2 separate regions of the Homo sapiens genome follow, and region 2 is linked to region 1. The links come from fine-mapping of genetic effects on gene expression. A gene starts in region 1. The other region holds a variant in brackets. All regions are shown on one strand. Distances are between the middles of the regions. Region 1 holds the start of ADA (adenosine deaminase). Region 2 holds the start of LINC01260 (long intergenic non-protein coding RNA 1260).

Evidence for each region.
Region 2: its variant is fine-mapped to the expression of ADA in blood mononuclear cells (TOPMed, PIP above 0.99).

The regions. Positions count from the first base shown.
Region 1 is chr20:44,647,862-44,656,185 of GRCh38, reverse strand. It overlaps ADA (adenosine deaminase), which reads left to right and starts at 4,487. Exons shown (of 12, transcript NM_000022.4): 1 at 4,487-4,611. The coding sequence starts at 4,579. RefSeq lists silencers at 4,289-4,678, 8,151-8,319 and enhancers at 3,715-4,698, 4,929-5,038, 7,628-8,128.
Region 2 is chr20:44,670,100-44,678,423 of GRCh38, reverse strand. LINC01260 (long intergenic non-protein coding RNA 1260) reads left to right here and starts at 6,685. Exons shown (of 5, transcript NR_034104.1): 1 at 6,685-6,785. RefSeq lists enhancers at 1-457, 6,945-7,444, 7,445-7,946. The variant G/C (reference allele first, on the strand shown) is at 3,608.

The DNA of each region.
Region 1 (8,324 bases):
GGGCATAGTGGTGGGTGCCTGTAATTCCAGCTACTCCAGAGGCTGAGGCATGAGAATTGCTTGAGCCCAGGAGGTGGAGGTTGCAGTGAGCTGGGATTGCACCACTGCACTCCACCCTGGGCGACAGAGTGAGACTCTGTCTCAAAATCAATCAATCAATCAATAGGCAAGAGGGAATCTGGAATGGGGAGGGTATGGAGAGGTGGGCCAGGAGGACTGACAGGAGATGTGGCCTTGGTAGAGAGACACAGTCAGCCCAGTGACTGTGCACCGAGGGAAAGGGGGAATGAATATCCTGACCTCTCTCCTCTCATCTGCTGTTCTCCTGCTGGTGCTCCCTGTTGACAAAACCCAACCAGAGCCAGAGGGCAGGAGAGCCCATTGGTCTCACCCACAGCAGCATGGCTGCCGGACACAGAGGAGCAGAGCAGCGTGCAGAAGGGTGGAGAGTGCACCTGCAGGGGCAAACAGAAGAACTGCATCACGCAGCCTGGCCCTTTGGATCTGACCCATTTGGAATGCAGAATTTTGATAGTCTAGGATCTGGGTAAAGGGTTTTCCAGGTGTCAGGATGGAAGTGACTAAGGTGCAGAGGCTGGAGGGCTGGGGCAGGTAGAAGCAAGCATTCCTGTTACCTACTGCTGTGTGACAATCTCCCCCTAAAACACAATGGCTTAAAATAACATCCATTTCATTACATATCTCAATACTATAGGTCAGGAATTTGGGCTGGGCTTACTTGGGTAATTCTTCTGTCCCACATGGCATTGACCAAAGCCTGGTTTTCAGTGGGCAGCTGGGCTGGATGGCCCAACACAGCTTCGCTAACATGATTGCTGTCTTCGTAGGGATGGTGGAAGCCTGGGCTCAGTGGGACTGTCAACTGGAATGGCCATATGTGGACTCTCTTAGCATGATGGTCTCTTCTAGAAGCTTGGGTTCCCAGAGAGAATGTTCAAGAGGCCCCAAAGGACACCACAAAGCTTCTTTATGACCAAGGCTCGGAAATCCAGGAAGCTTGCTCCCATCACGCTCTATTACTCCAACAAGTCACTCAGGCCAGCCCAGGTCCAAGAGGAGGAAACCTAGACTCCATCTTGCAATGTGAAGAATTGCAAATAATTTGTGTCACCCTTAAGCAACCAGCAACTCATCTAGGTTGATTGGCATTTCAGCAATGTGGTGGGAAGTGGTGGGACTGATGTTGAAGAGGGACTTGAATGTCATGAGAGGCTGGGGAGGCAATAAGGTGGGGAGTGAAGTTTCTCGAGTCAGATTCAAATTTAAACCCCAGTTTTGCCACTTACAACCCATGAGCCAAGCAGGCTGTCTCTCTATCTGAACCTCAGTGTCCTCATCTGTAAAATGAGGAGAACACCTCCTACATCTGAGGATGACTGTAAAGATGAAATGGGATGGGTGCTTATAAAGTGCTTCCCAGTGTACCTGGCTCCAAACCTGTCTCAGTAAATGGCAGCCCCTATTATTGAACCCGAGTAACACAGAGAGCCAAGAAAGGATCTTACAAAAAACTCCCCTGGCTTTGACAATGTATGAGACCCACTGATAGGGTTTGGCTTTGTGTCCTCACCCAAATCTCATCTAGTAGCTCCCATAATTCCTACATGTTGTGGGAGAGACTCGGCGGGAGATAATTGAATCATGGGGGATGGTCTTTCCCATGCTGTTCTTGTGATAGTAAATAAGTCTCACAAGATCTGATGGTTTTAAAAATGGGAGTTTCCCTGCAGGCGCTCTCTCTTTGTCTACTGCCATCCATGTAAGACGTGACTTGCTCCTCCTTTGCCTTCTGCCATGATTGCAAGGCCTCCCCACCATTGTGGAACTGTAAGTCTATTAAAGCCTCTTTCTTTTGTAAATTACCCAGTCTCAGGTATGTCTTTTTTTTTTTTTTCATGAGATGGAGTTTCGCTCTTGTTGCCCAGGCTGGAATGCAATGGTGTAATCTTGGCTCACCACAACCTCCACCTCCCAGGTTCAAGCGATTCTCCTGCCTCAGCCTCCCGAGTAGCTGGGATTACAGTCATACACCACCACGCCTGGCTAATTTTGTATTTTTTTTTTTTTTTTTAGTAGAGACGGGGTTTCACCATGTTGGTCAGGCTGGTCTCAAACTCCCGACCTCAGGTGATCCTCCTGCCTTGGCCTCCCAAAGTCCTGGGATTACAGGCATGAACCACTGCGCCCAGGCTCGGGTATGTCTTCATCAGTAGCATGAAAATAATGGACTAATACAGCCACCCTCTCCCTCACTCCCACATACAACCAAACCCCAAATCCAGCTGATTTTACACCCTAAATGCAGCTTGAATATGAGTTTCTCCACTTCCCCCACTGACATCACTATGCCCTACCCAGACCATGGCAGTTGCCTCCTTCCTGGTATCCTGTCCTCCCTCACCCCCGCTGGCCCCCTGTAATGCCCTCCCCTCACAGCAGGGAGCCCAGGCTTCTCAAAGTGCCCTGTGGGTGCGAACCACCTGGGGGTCCTGTTTGTATAAAATACAGATTCTACTTCAGTAGGTCTGGGATGGGGTCTGAAAGTCTGCATTTGTAGTCAGCTCCCAGGTGATGTGGGTGCTGATGATCCCTGGATCACACTTTCAGTAGCTGGAGAATATTTTTTCCAAATAAAAGGGTGATTTTGTCTCGCCTCCACTTAAAACACTCCACTGACTTCCTAGGAATCCCACACCATCGCTGGGTCCCACATCCCTGGCAGGATTCAGCTCCCATCAGACCTTCTAGCCCCTTGCTCTCCACTCTCCCACTCTCTCTTTCCCCCTTGTTTATGGGTTTGTTAATTTATTTATGATGAAATGAAATGAAGCTACCATCCACCCCAGTACTGGAACATTATCAATAACCTGTGTGTGGCCAGGCGTGGTGGCTCATGCCTGTAATCACGCCTTGGGAAGCCGAGGTGGGTGGATCATGTGAGGTCAGGTGTTCGAGACCAGCCTGGCCAACATGGTGAAACCCCGTCTCTACTACAAATCCAAAACTTAGCAGGGCACGGTGCCACGCGCCTGTAATCCCAGCTACTCGGGACGCTGAGGCCGAGAACTGCTTAAAATCCAGGAGGTGGAGGTTGCAGTGAGCCGAGATTTCGCCACTGCACTCCAGCCTGGGCGACAGAGCAAGAGTCCATCTCAAAAAAACAAAAACAAAAACAAAAAAACAAAAAACAAAAATTAGCCAGGCGTGGTTGTGGGCGCCTATAATCCCAGCTACTCGGGAGGCTGAGACAGGAAAATCGCTTGAAACGCTGGGGGTGCGGGGGAGCGGTGGGGAGGAGGCGGGCCAGAGGGGCAGAGGTTGCAGTGAGCCCAGATCGCGCCACTTCACTGCAGCCTCCGCGAAAGAGCGAAACTCCGTCTCAGTAAATAAATAAATAAATAAATAAATAAATAAATAAATAAATAAATAACCTGTACCCGCGTGTTATTTCCCTCCGTCCTTACCTCCTCCCGGCTCCTTCCCTTTCACCTGAGATAACCACTCTTCTCGTATCTATGCTCATCTTTCCCTTGCTTTACATTTTTTCCACCGATGCATGTGTCTAAACATACATACTTTTGGTTTTGCTTTTACACATTCTAAAAGTTGCACCATTGTATGCAGTTTTCCGCAACTTAGTTTTTTTCACTCAACATTGTTTCTGAGACATTGTTTCTGTTGTTGTCTGGCTGAAGTTCATTCCGTTTCACTGCTGTCTAACGTTTCATGGTGTGAATATTCCGGTTTATTTGCCCACTCGCCCGTGGAGGGGCATTTGAGGGTGTTTCCAATGTTCCTGTTATTCGGAATAGCGCTGGTGTGAACATTCTGCACAGGTCTCTGGCTGCGCCTGGGCGGGTTTCTTAAAGGTGAATGCCCAGGAGGGGACTGTCTGTGTTCTCCCTCCCTCCGAGCTCCAGCCTTCCTCGCCTCCTTTCACTCCCAGCTCCCTGGAGTCTCTCACGTAGAATGTCCTCTCCACCCCCACCCACCCCTGATGAACTCCTGCAGGTTCTGCAGGCCACGGCTGGCCCCCCTCGAAAGTTCCTTAACTATACAATTATGGTGTGTGTTTCTGCGACGAGCGTCCGTCTATCCGGTGGAAGGCACGCCGCTCGAGGCTTGCGATGCTCCCGGGGTCCCCGCTTCTAGCTTGGGCCTGGCGCACAGCAGCGCCCAGACTGCAGGGGGACGCTTGAAAGTTGCTGGAGGAGCCGGGGGGAAGGCAGCGCCCAGCGAGGCGGCTGGAGCGCGCGCCCACAGGTGGGTCCGGTCGGGCGCCGCGGGGCCGTAGTTTTCGGGTCGGCGGGCGAGGACGCCGGGTCCAGAATTCCAGGAAATGCGCGATCCAGGCCGGCGGGCGGGGCGGGGGCTCCGGCGAGAGGGCGGGCCCCGGGAACGGCGGCGGGCGGGGCGGGAGGCGGGGCCCGGCCCGTTAAGAAGAGCGTGGCCGGCCGCGGCCACCGCTGGCCCCAGGGAAAGCCGAGCGGCCACCGAGCCGGCAGAGACCCACCGAGCGGCGGCGGAGGGAGCAGCGCCGGGGCGCACGAGGGCACCATGGCCCAGACGCCCGCCTTCGACAAGCCCAAAGTGAGCGCGCGCGGGGGCTCCGGGGACGGGGGTCCGGCGCCTGGGCGGCCCGAGGGGCTTAGCGGGGCCCAGCCCGGGGCGTCCAAACCCTGGGAACGAACGGGGGCTCCTGCAGGCGAGTTCTTCCTTCGGCTTAGGCCGTGGCTTGCTTGCGGGCTAATCAGGGACAATGGGGCAGAGAAGGTCCAGAACCCGGAGGCCTCCAGAGTCTGCTTCTGCCCCTGACTTGACCCCTCTGGGTCTCAGTTTCGCTGTCTGTCAAGTGGGCATCCTAGCACCGCTGAGCGCTGTGTGGGCCTGGGCAGGGACTTGAGGTCTCTGAAGCTCAGCTGTATGATCAGGCCCGATGTCTACGCCGGATAGGCACCTAGTGCTGTGCCCGGCGCCTACTGAGTGCTCAGTGAATGGAAGCAGCTTTGTACGCCAGCGTTATGGTGGTGAGCGCCAAGGAGCTCAGGTTTGTGGATGCGCCCCGGGGAAGAACCGTGAGCCCTGCCAGAAAGGGGAGGGAGGGGAGCAGAGCACCCCCCTTCCCCCGCGCGGGAAGAACAGGAGCTAGGTAGGCCCTGGGTTTGGGGCCCTAGCAGGGTTCACTCGAGGCCAAGCCATGGCCACTGGCCCCAGGGGAGAATCCCCTTGTTTCTCCGCCCACCAGCTGTGGCGTCTTGGGACTGTTGGGGTCAGGGAGGGTCTGGACCCCCTTGGCCTGTCGCAGAGTCCGAGAGGAGGGGCCCAGGAGTCTGCCAAGCAGGGTGAGTCAGCCAGTAGGGTGTGAGAGTGGTTGGGGAAGGAGTCAGCTGCAGTCAGCCTCAACTTACCCTTCTAAGAAATAGGTGTGAGTGGCCCAGGAGGTTGGCTCACGCCTGTAATCCCAGCACTTTGTGAGGCTGAGGCGGGAGGATCATTTGAGTCCAGGAGTTTGAGACTAGCCTGGACAACAAAACTAGACCCCGTCTCTCCAAAAAATAAAAAAAGTTAGGGGAAGTGTGTGTGGTGGTGCACTCCCGTAGTCCCAGCTACTCAGGAGGCTGAGGCGGGAGGATCGCTTGAGCCCAGGAGGTTGAGGCTGCAGTGAGGTGTGATGGTGCCACTGCACTTCAGCCTGGGAGACAGAGCGAGACCCTGTCTCAAAAAAAAGAGAAGAAAAAGAAAAGAAAAGAAATAGGTGTGAATGATGATGACAGCTATCACAAAAGTGCCGGTGAGAATCCAGTGAGTGTGCATGTGTCAGTGAGGGAGACAGGCTGTGGAGAGCCCACCTACCTTCTGAGGAGGGTGAGGCCTGGCCCCCACTACTGATGCCCCCAGCCCAGGGAAAATGCTCAGCTACTCCCCGTCAGAAGCTGGAAGCACTGAGGTGCTGTACAAGCCCTCCTACCCCCACCCCTGCCTCCTTCACGTCTTACTGGAGCTGGGGCCCATGATTGGCGCCTCCCCTTTGCAGTCTTTTTATTAAATGCTCTGGGCTCCCTCTGCCCTTGGGCTGGGGACCCACTGTACCCTGATGTGAATCCTATGGCAATAGCAAAGCTCTTTGATTGGCGGGGTGCAGTGGCTCACGCCTATAATCCCAGCACTTTGGGAGGCAAAGGTGGGTGGATCATGAGGCCAGGAGTTCGAGACCAGCCTGGCCAACATGGCAAAACCCCATTTCTACTAAAAATATAAAAAATTAGCTGGGCATGGTGGCGGGCGCCTGTAGTCCCAGCTACGCAGAAGGCTGAGGCAGGAGAATGGCATAAACCCAGGAGGTGGAGCTTGCAGTGAGCCGAGATCTCGCCATTGCACTCCAGCCTGGGTGACAGAGTGAGACGCTGTCTCAAAAAAAAAAAAAAAAAAAAAAAGGCTCCTTGATTGCGAACATGTTGGGAGTTATGGAGAGAACAGCAGGGCCCACTTCTAGAGCACTTGTTGCAGACACCCATTGGATCCTTGCAGTTCTTCTGTAACAGCCCATCAAGGGAGGGGCTCATATTATTATCCCCATTTTTTGGCCTTGCTCAGTCCTCCCATCTGATTCAAGCTGGCAGATCATTTTCCCTATTGGGACCTCAGTGTCCACACCTGGAGGATGGAACATCAGCTGCTTATGTGGGTGTCCCGTGTCCTGAGTCCCAAGGCCACAAGGTGATGCTTGAGAGTGAAGGTAGAATGTTACCTGCCATGTGTTTGAGGCGTGACAAATCTTGTATGATTGTGAGGAGGAACTTGTGTGAGCTGGCAGGAGAAGTGGGAAGGAGTGTGAATCTCAGAGCCACTGTGACCAGAGCCAGCTCCCTGCCCTCTTGTGGGAGGGACAGATGACAGTTATAATTATTAGCATTACTAGCTGCAGCTAATGGAGTGTTGATGTTTCTGTGCCAGGCACCGTTCTAAACACATTATCTGCATTTTTTATTTAATCCAGGCACAGAGAGGTTAACTAGGCCCAAGATCACACAGCTAGGAAATGTCCAATCTGGGGTTTGAGTCCAAGGGAGGCTGGCTTCGAAATCCCATGCCTCTAACCATCTTTCCTAAACTACCTCTGCAGAAGCCTTTGGGGATAGAGGTGCCAGTGCCCCAGGTGCAAACCTCCTGAGACAGGAGCCTTTGCTGTGTCCTTCAGCTTCTCATACCTGCCACCAGCTGAGGCCTGGGACCTGGTCAGCTAGAAGAAAGCAGAGCAGGGCAGCGCTTTTCAAACTGCACTCAAGTGGCCTGACTTTTAATGTTCACACTGTGATTCTGTGTGGGTCGGGTTGGGGCCTGCGATGCTGCACTGCTGACCAGCTCCCAGGAAATGCTAATGTCAACGATCCAGGAACACACTTTGCTTAGCAAGGCCCTAGGCAGCTGCCTTCTGTTGTGCGGGACCCCTATTGACTCCAATGGATATAGCACCAGGTTCAAGAGGCTACCTTCTTTGGAAGAGGTAGCAAACAAGATACGGGGTTTTACTGGGGGCTTAGACACAGGGAAGAGAGTCCAGTGGCGGCAGACTGAGCAGAAGAACCGCAACCACTTGCAAATCATGCAGTTTATGTAGCATTTTCATTTAACACCTTCTCCCAACCATCTCCACCTAGTAACCTTCATTTAACCCAAAACAAAGGGCCTCGGTCCCTATACCCCTGTATGGTCAGTGTCCCGTGGGAATGGGGTGGGGCTCAGATGTTCCTCATAGATAACGACTGGATCTCCAGGTTGGCCACTCTTGGATTCCTTCGCTCAGAACTCTGAACACCCATTCAAGTGTGCCTGCCATGCAGGGTCATCGTCAGGGGATGCCCAAGTCAAGTTTGCCCTGTCGGGTGTGCCTCCCATACCCCCACCTGGTTTGACTTAGCACCTGCTGGGCACTGGAAGAAGTGGAAAGGGGGGTTGCAGGGGTGGCCCTTATCAGCCTATGTTCACAGGTGGCACCAGGCACTCAGGCATTCTGCATCCTGGAGGCCAGTGCTGATCACATGCCTGTTACAATAATCATAACAATAGCTGTCCTTGAAGTAGTCCTGGGTACCAGGTGCCTTCAGTGACTTTTTCTTTTTTGCCAGAATCTCACTCTGTCGCCCAAGCTGGAGTGCAGTGGCAAGATTTTGGGTCCCTGCAACCTCTGCCTCCTGGGTTCATGCGATCCTCCTGCCTCAGCCTCCCAAGTAGCTGGGACTACAGGCGTGTGCCGCAGTCTCACTCTGTTGCCCAGGCTGGAGTGCAGTGGTGTGATCCTGGCT
Region 2 (8,324 bases), 22 kb before region 1:
TGGCCTGACACTGCTTTCTTAGTGTCTTATCTCAGAGGAGGCCTCTTCCAGTGACTTCTGTGGCAACTGGAGCAAAAGCCAGACTGCTCTTCATGTTCTCCAAGGCCTTGCTTGGTCTGGCCAGTGCCACATGTTTTCCAACATGCCAAATGCATGCCTGCCTCAGGACCTATGCATTTGCTGTTTCTTCTGCCTGGAATAAATGAAAAATAAATAAATACTTTTTTTTTTTTTTTTTTTGGAGATGGAGTCCTTTCTGTTGTGCAGGCTGGAGAGTAGTGGCACGACCTTGGCTCACTGCAACCTCTGCCTCCCGGGTTCAAGTGATCCTCCCACCTCAGCCTCCCAAGTAGCTGGGACTACAGGCATGTGCCACCATGCTCAGCTAATTTTTTTTTGTATTTTTATTAGGGATGGGATTTTGCCATGTTGCCCAGGCTGGTCTCAAACTCCTGGCCTCAAGTGATCCGCCTGCCTCAGTCTCCCAAAGTGCTAAAATTACAGGCATGAGCCACAGTGCCCAGCCATAAATACAATAATTTTTTTTTTTTAAAGAAAATTTAGGCCGGGTGTGGTGGCTCACACCTGTAATCCCAGCACTTTGGGAGGCCAAGGCGGGTGGATCACGAGGTCAGGAGATCAAGACCATCCTGGCTAACATGGTGAAACCCCGTCTCTACTAAAAATACAAAAAATTAGCCAGGCATGGTGTCAGGCGCCTATAGTCCCAGCTACTTGGGAGGCTGAAGCAGGAGAATGGCGTGAACCCAGGAGGTGGAGCTTGCAGTGAGCCGAGATCGTGCCACTGCACTCCAGCCTGGGCGACAGAGTGAGCATCTCAAAAAAGAAAAAAGAAAATTTAGTGCTTTGTTGATTTAAATAAAATTATCCTTGGTATTTTAGTGAGGAAATACTTCAAAGCATGACTTTACCTATCTCAAAAGCAGATATTGTTATGTGCTATTAGGATATCTGGACACCCTGCCACCATAGGAGTTTGCCCTTGCAGGCATTACTAAATCGCTTCCTTCACCCAAAACATATCATGGCCATGAGTTGTGACTGCCAAGGAATGTGCCTTGCTAGTTTGAAGATGCAGTTGATTTTATTATTTTATTATTTTATTTTATTTTTTGAGACAGAGTGTCACACTGTCACCCAAGCTGGAGTGCAGTGACACGATCTCAGCTCACTGCAAACTCTGCCTCCCGGGCTCAAGCAATTCTCCTGCCTCAGCCTCTCAAGTAGCTGGGATTACAGGTGCCCACCATCATGCCCAACTAATTGTTGTACTTTTAATAGAGATGGGGTTTCTCCATGTTGGCCAGGCTGGCTTTGAACTCCTGACCTCAGGTGATCCGCCCACCTCAGCCTCCCAAAGTGCTGGGATTACAGGCATGAGCCACTGTGCCCAGCCACAATTGATTTTAAAATGGTGTCACCCTGACTCTGTTATGCTCCTGTTTCCCTAACAGTGTCACCATGGACCCAGCCTCTTGCCATCTTTGCACTCTGCCAATGTCAGTGTGTTGGCAAAGTGAGTTTAAAATTGTAGTCATTCATCTAGCCAAAGTGATGATTCAAATATTTCAAAAAGCAAACTTTTACTCTTTCATAGAGAGGAGACTGAATTTTCCAAACAATCAAAATGTCACGTGCGTCTGTGTGAAGAGACCACCAAACAGGCTTTGTGTGAGCAACAAAGCTGTTTATTTCACCTGGGTGCAGGCGGGCTGAGTCCGAAAAGAGAGTCAGCAAAGGGTGGTGGGTTTATTATTAGTTCTTATAGGTTTTGGGATAGGCGGTGGAGTTAGGAGCAATGTTTTGCAGGCAGGGGTTGGATCTCACAAAGTACATTCTCAAGGGTGGGGAGAATTACAAAGAACCTTCTTAAGGGTCGGGGGGGGGGTTACAAAGAACCTTCTTAAGGGTGGGGGAGATTATAAAATACATTGATCAGTTAGGGTGGGGCAGAAACAAATCACAATGGTGGAAAGTCATCAGTTAAGGCTATTTTCACTTCTTTTGTGGATCTTCAGTTGCTTCAGGCCATCTGGATGTATACAGGCAGGTCACAGGGGATATGATGGCTTAGCTTGGGCTCAGAGGCCTGACATTCCTGTCTTCTTATATTAATAAGAAAAGCAAAACAAAATAGTGGTGAAGTGTTGGAGTGGCGAAAAATTTTGGGGCTGGTATGGAGAGATAATGGGCAATGTTTCTCAGGGCTGCTTCGAGTGGGATTGGGGCAGCATGGGAACCTACAGTGGGAGAGATTCAACTGAAGAAAGATTTTGGGGTAAGGGGTGGTATTGTGGGGTTGTTAGAAGGAGCATTTGTCATACAGAATTATTGGTGATGGCCTGGATGCGGTTTTGTGTGAATTGAGAAACTAAATGAAAGACACAAGGTCTGAATAAAAGGAGAGAAATAGGTATTAAAGGACTAAGAAGTGGGAGGACCCAGGACATCCAATTAGAGAGTGCCCAAGGCTGTTCAGCGTAATTACTTGCTTGGTTGTTGAGTTTTTGGGCTGTATCCTTGACAGAGTCCTCCTTTTTAAGTTGGAGGCTGAGCTTGGTGAGGTGTGTCTTGAAAAGACCATTAGTCCGTTCCATCTTTCCTGAAGATTGAGGACGGTAAGGGGTATGAAGTTTCTACTGAATACCAAGAGCCTGAGAAACGGCTTGGGTGATTTGACTAATAAAGGCCAATCCGTTATCAGACTGTATAGAGGTGGGAAGGCCAAACTGAGGAATTATGTCTGACAGAAGGGAAGAAATGACCATGATGGCCTTCTCAGACCCTGTGGGAAAGGCCTCTACCCATCCAGTGAAAGTGTCTACCTAGACCAAGAGGTATTTTAGTTTCCTGACTCGGGACATGTGAGTAAAGTCAATTTGCCAGTCCTGGGCAGGGGCAAATCCCCAAGCTGGATGTGTAGGGAAGGGAGGGGGCCTGAACAATCCCTGAGGAGTAGTAGAATAGCAGATGGAACACTGAGAAGTGATTTCCTTGAGGATAGATTTCCATGATGGAAAGGAAATGAGAGGTTCTAAGAGTCGGGCTAGCGGCTTGTAACCTACATGGAAGAGGTTATGAAATGATGACAGAATAGAATGGGCCTGTGAGGCTGGAAGGAGATATTTTTCTTGGTCCAAGAACCATTTGCCTTGTGTGGGAAGATATTGATAGGTGGAAGTTTCAGCAGGAGAGTAGGTGGGAGTGACCCATGAGGAGGAGAAAAACTGTCTGTGAGGGACAGAAGTTGGAATGCTAGCTCTTTCTTTAGCTACCTTATCAGCATAAGCGTTGCCCTGAACGATGGGATCTGATGCCTTTTGGTGGCCCTTGCAGTGTATGACTCCAGTTTCCTTTGGAAGTAAAGCGGCCTTGAGAAGAGTTTTTATTAAAGAGGCAATAATGATGGAGGACCCTTGCGTAGTGAGGAAACCTCTTTCAGCCCATTTAACACCATGGTGGTGCAGGATATGGAAGGCATATTTAGAGTCAGTATAAATATTGATGCGTAGTGCGTAGTTCCTTTGCAAGAGTGAGGGCTCGAGTTAAGGCAATGAGTTCAGCTTGCTGAGAGGTAGTGGAGGTG[G/C]GCAGAGTGGTAGCCTCAATGATAGATGTGGAAGATACTATAGCATAGCCTGCCTTTGCTGGTGTGTGGCGATTAGGCCTAGTGGAACTGCCATCAATATACCAGGTGTGATCAGGGTGAGGAACAGGAAAGAAGGAAATGTGGGGAAATAGAGTGAATGTCAGGTGTATCATAGAGATACAGTCATGGGGGTCACGTGTGGTATCAGGAATAATGTGGGAGGCTGGATTGAAGTCCGGGCCAGGAACAATGGTAACTGTGGGAGACTCAACAAAGAGTGAGTACAGCTGAAGGAGCCGGGGAGCAGACAGTATATGTGTCAGGTGTGAGGAAGAAAATAGATTTTGGAAGTTATAAGAACTGTAGAGAGTGAGTTGAGCATAGTTTGTGATTTTGAGGGCCTCCAAAAGTATTAGGGCAGCAGCGGCCACCGCATGGAGACATGATAGCCAGCCTAAAACAGTAAGGTCAAGTTGTTTGGACAAAAAGCCTATAGGGTGCGGTCCCAGTCCTTGTGTACGAATTCCAACTGCACAGCCCTACACTTCGGCTGCGTGTAATGAAAAGGGTTGAGATGAGCCAGGGAGAGCTAGTGTGGGAGCAGTCTCTAAAACTGTCTTCAAGGAACAGAAAGAGGAGTGGGGAAAGGATTGAGAATCTATGGAGTCAGCTAGGTTTCCTTTTGTGAGTTTATACAATGGTTTTGTTAGGATGGCAAAACCAGGTATCCAAAGACAAAAGTATCCAACCACGCCCAGGAAGTAAAGGAGTTGTTGTTTTGTAGAAGGGCCTGGGGTTTGAGAGATCAGTCGGACACGATCCGCAGGGAGAGCGCATGTGTTGTTATGAAGAATTATGCTGAGGTAGGTAATGGATGGAGAAGAAATTTGAGCTTTGGACAGGGATACCCAATATCCCTTGGAGAATAAATGTTGAAGGAGCAGGAGGGTGTCTTGTTGAGAAGATTCAAAGGAGGGGCTACAAAGTAGAAGGTCATCAATATATTGAATAAGGCAAGAAGCAGAGGGGTGGAAAGAAAGTAAATCATAAGAAAGAGCTTGGCTGAAGTAATGAGGGCTGGCCCTGAAGCCTTGCGGCAGTACAGCCCAGGTAAGCTGCTGGGACTGATGGGTGTCAGGATCGGTCCAGGTAAAAGCAAAGAGAGGCTGGGACAAGGGGTGTAGGAGAATAGTGAAAAAAAGCATTTTAAAGATCAAGAATGGAATAGTGAGTTGTGGAGGAAGATATTGAGGACAAAAGAGCGTACGGGTTGGGCACCACAGGGTGGATAGGCAAAACAATTTGGTTGATAAGGCACAGATCCTGAACTAACCTGTAAGACTTGTCCGGTTTTTGAACAGGTAAAATGGGAGAATTGTAAGGAGAGTTTATAGGTTTTAGAAGCCCATGCTGTAGCAGGCAAGTGATAACAGGATTTAATCCCCTTAAAGCCTGTTGTGGGATGTGATACTGGCATTGAGTGGGGTAAGCGTGATTAGGTTTTAATGGGATAGTAATGGGCATGTGATTGGTTGCCAGGGAGGGAGTGGAGGTGTCCCATATTTGTGGGTTAAGGTCGGGGGATATGAGAGGAAGACCCAAAGGAGGCTTTGGGTTGGGAAGAAGGGGGCAATGAGATGTGGCTGTAGTACAGGAATAATCAGGGAAGCAGATAATTTGGTTAAAATGTCTCAGCCTAATAAGGAAGCTGGGCAGGTGGGGATAACTGAAAAAGAGTGCATAAAAGAACGTTGTCCAAGTTGGCACCAGAGTGGGGGAGTTTTAAGGGGTTTTGAAGCTTGGCCATCAATACCCACAACAGTTATGGGGGCGAGGGAAACAGGCCCTTGAAAAGAAGATAATGTGGAGTGGGTAGCCCCCATATCGATTAAACGGGATGGACTTACCCTCCACTTTAAGAGTTACCCGAAGCTCAGCGTCTGTGATGGTCCAGGAGGCTTCTGAGGCGATCGGGCTACGTCAGTCTTCAGCTGCTAAGCCGAGGAGATCTGGGAAGGAGTCGGCCAAGGAACATAGGGTTTGGGCTCCAGGGGCTTTAGGAGTGGCAGTGATGTGAGTCGGACAGTCCGACCTCCAGCGGGGGCCCGCACAGACAGGGCACGGCTTAGGAGGAATCCCGGGCTGCGGGCATTCTGAGGCCCAGTGGCCAGGCTTTTAGCATTTGAAGCAAGGTCCACGAGGATGTTTTGAAGGAGCCCCTGGGAGCTGTGGCTTGGATGTTCTGAAGTTCTTGTATGCTGGAGACGTGGTTGTGGGCTGTCTTACAGCGGAGGCGAGCAGCTGTAACTCAGAAATGCGTTGCTGCCTGGCTACCTCCTCTGTATTATTGTACACTTTGAAGGGGAGGTTGATTAATTCGTGTTGTGGGGTTTGAGGGCCGGATTCCAATTTTTAAAGCTTTTTTCTAATGTCAGGAGCTGGGTGATAAAATGCATATTAAGAATAAGGCGGCCTTCTGGCCCCTCTGGGTCTAGGGCGGTAAAGTGTGTAAGGGTTGCTGCCGAGCGGGCCATGAACTGAGCTGGGTTTTCGTCTTTACCTTGGGTAGTTTCTCTAAGTTTGTCATAATTAACAGCTTTGTAAGCTGCCTTTTTAAGCCCTTCAACTAGGCAGGAAACCATGTAATCTCGCCTAGCCATACCTGGGGAATCTGCCTGATAGTTCCATTGGGGGTCCTCTCGGGGAACTGCTCTACTGCCTTCCTGGAGGTCAGGTTCATGAAGCCGGCGGTTATCAGCGTGAGATTGGGCTAGAGAAAAAACTCTTTCCCGTTCATCTGGGGAGAGGGTAGAAGTCAGGATGACATTTCAGTCACTCCAGGTTAAACTGTAGGACAGAGTTAGATATCGGGATTCCTGTATATATTTAGTGGGGTCTGATGAGAAAGAGCCTAAATGCTGGCTGATTTGGGAAAGGTCTGATAGAGAAAAAGGCACATGTACCCTGACTATGCCTTCAGCTCCAGCCACCTCTCTAAGAGGAAATTGTTGGGCAGGTGGGGGAGAGCTAGCCGCAGAACGAAACTGAAAACCAGACTGGGTGTGGGGAGGGCGGGTAATAGAAGGGTTATAGGATGTGGGAGCAGAGGCTGAAGAAGAGTTGGAGGCTGATTCAGCCTGGTGGGGAGCGAGCTGAGGAGGAGCAGTCTGGGAAGAAGGTGAGACGTCAGATGGTTCAGTAGAAAAGGAAGATTCACAAGACTCAGCGACGCTTGGGGTTGGGACTGAAGGGACAGGTGGGAGGGAAAGAAGGAGGATTTGGGACGAGTCGCATTGGGAACAGAGACTAGGGAGGGAACGAAGTGTGAAAAATGCCTGGACGTAAGACACCTCAGACCATTTGCCCATTTTTCAACAAAAATTATCTAGGTCTTGTAGGACGGAGAAATGAAAAGTGCCATTTTCTGGCCATTTAGAACCATTGTTAGTTTGTATTGGGGCCAAGTGGTGTTGCAGAAGAAAATAAGATGCTTAGATTTTAGGTCAGGTGAGAGTTGAAGAGGTTTTAAGTTCTTGAGAACATAGGCTAAGGGAGAAGAAGGAGGAATGGAGGGTGGAAGTTTGCCCATAGTGAAGGAGGCAAGTTTAAAGAGAAGGGTAGAGATATGGAGAAGGGGGTGGGGAGCAGCCCTGGGCTGCAATGTGGGTGAGCAGCCAAAGCAGGCGTCCCCGCAATTGACTTGCCACCAAGGGAATGTGGGTGAATGACCAAAGCAGGCGTCCCTGCGGTGATCGGACACCAATGGAATGTGGGTGAATAATCAGGCAGGCGTCCCCGCAGTGATTAAATGGCAAGGGAAGACTGTCTTCCTGAGTCTGTGACCGGCCCTGGAGTTTTGGGTTCACGGATAAAATGTGTCTCCTTTGTCTCTACTGGAGAGGAAAAAGAACTGGAATTGGAAGGACAGAGAGATTGAAGGGTAGCAAGAGAGGCTGGAGAAGAGAGTGAAAAGACCACTTACCCAATTTGAAATTGGTGAGATGTTCCTTGGGCTGGTTGATCTGAGGACCCGAGGTCGTAAGTGGATCTCTTCACGGAGTGAGGGTGAGGACAGGGGACTGGTCTCCCGAAGGAGTCCCTCTGACCCGGGTCTTCAGCACCAAATGTCACACGCATCTGTGTGAAGAGACCACCAAACAGGCTTTGTGTGAGCAACAAGGCTGTTTATTTCACCTGGATGCAGGCGGGCTGAGTCCGAAAAGAGAGTCAGCAAAGGGTGGTGGGATTATCATTAGTTCTTACAGGTTTTGGGATAGGCAGTGGAGTTAGGAGCAATGTTTTGTGGGCAGCGGGTGGATCTCACAAAGTACATTCTCAAGGGTGGGGAGAATTACAAAGAACTTTCTTAAGGGTGGGGGAGATTACAAAGAACTTTCTTAAGTGGGGGGAGATTATAAAGTACATTGATCAGTTAGGGTGGGGCAGAAACAAATCACAATGGTGAAAGGTCATCAGTTAAGGCTATTTTCACTTCTTTTGTGGATCTTCAGTTGCTTCAGGCCATCTGGATGTATACATGCAGGTCACAGGGGATATGACGGCTTAGCTTGGGCTCAGAGGCCTGACACAAAAGACCTGAAAAAGACAACTTGAGACCAACAGAATGTCTCTCCCTCTCCCCCGTTTCTTTTCTCCTTTTTTTTTTTTTTAGCAGCAGTTTACTCAAAAGGTAAACAAAAAAATCTTTTGCTATCTC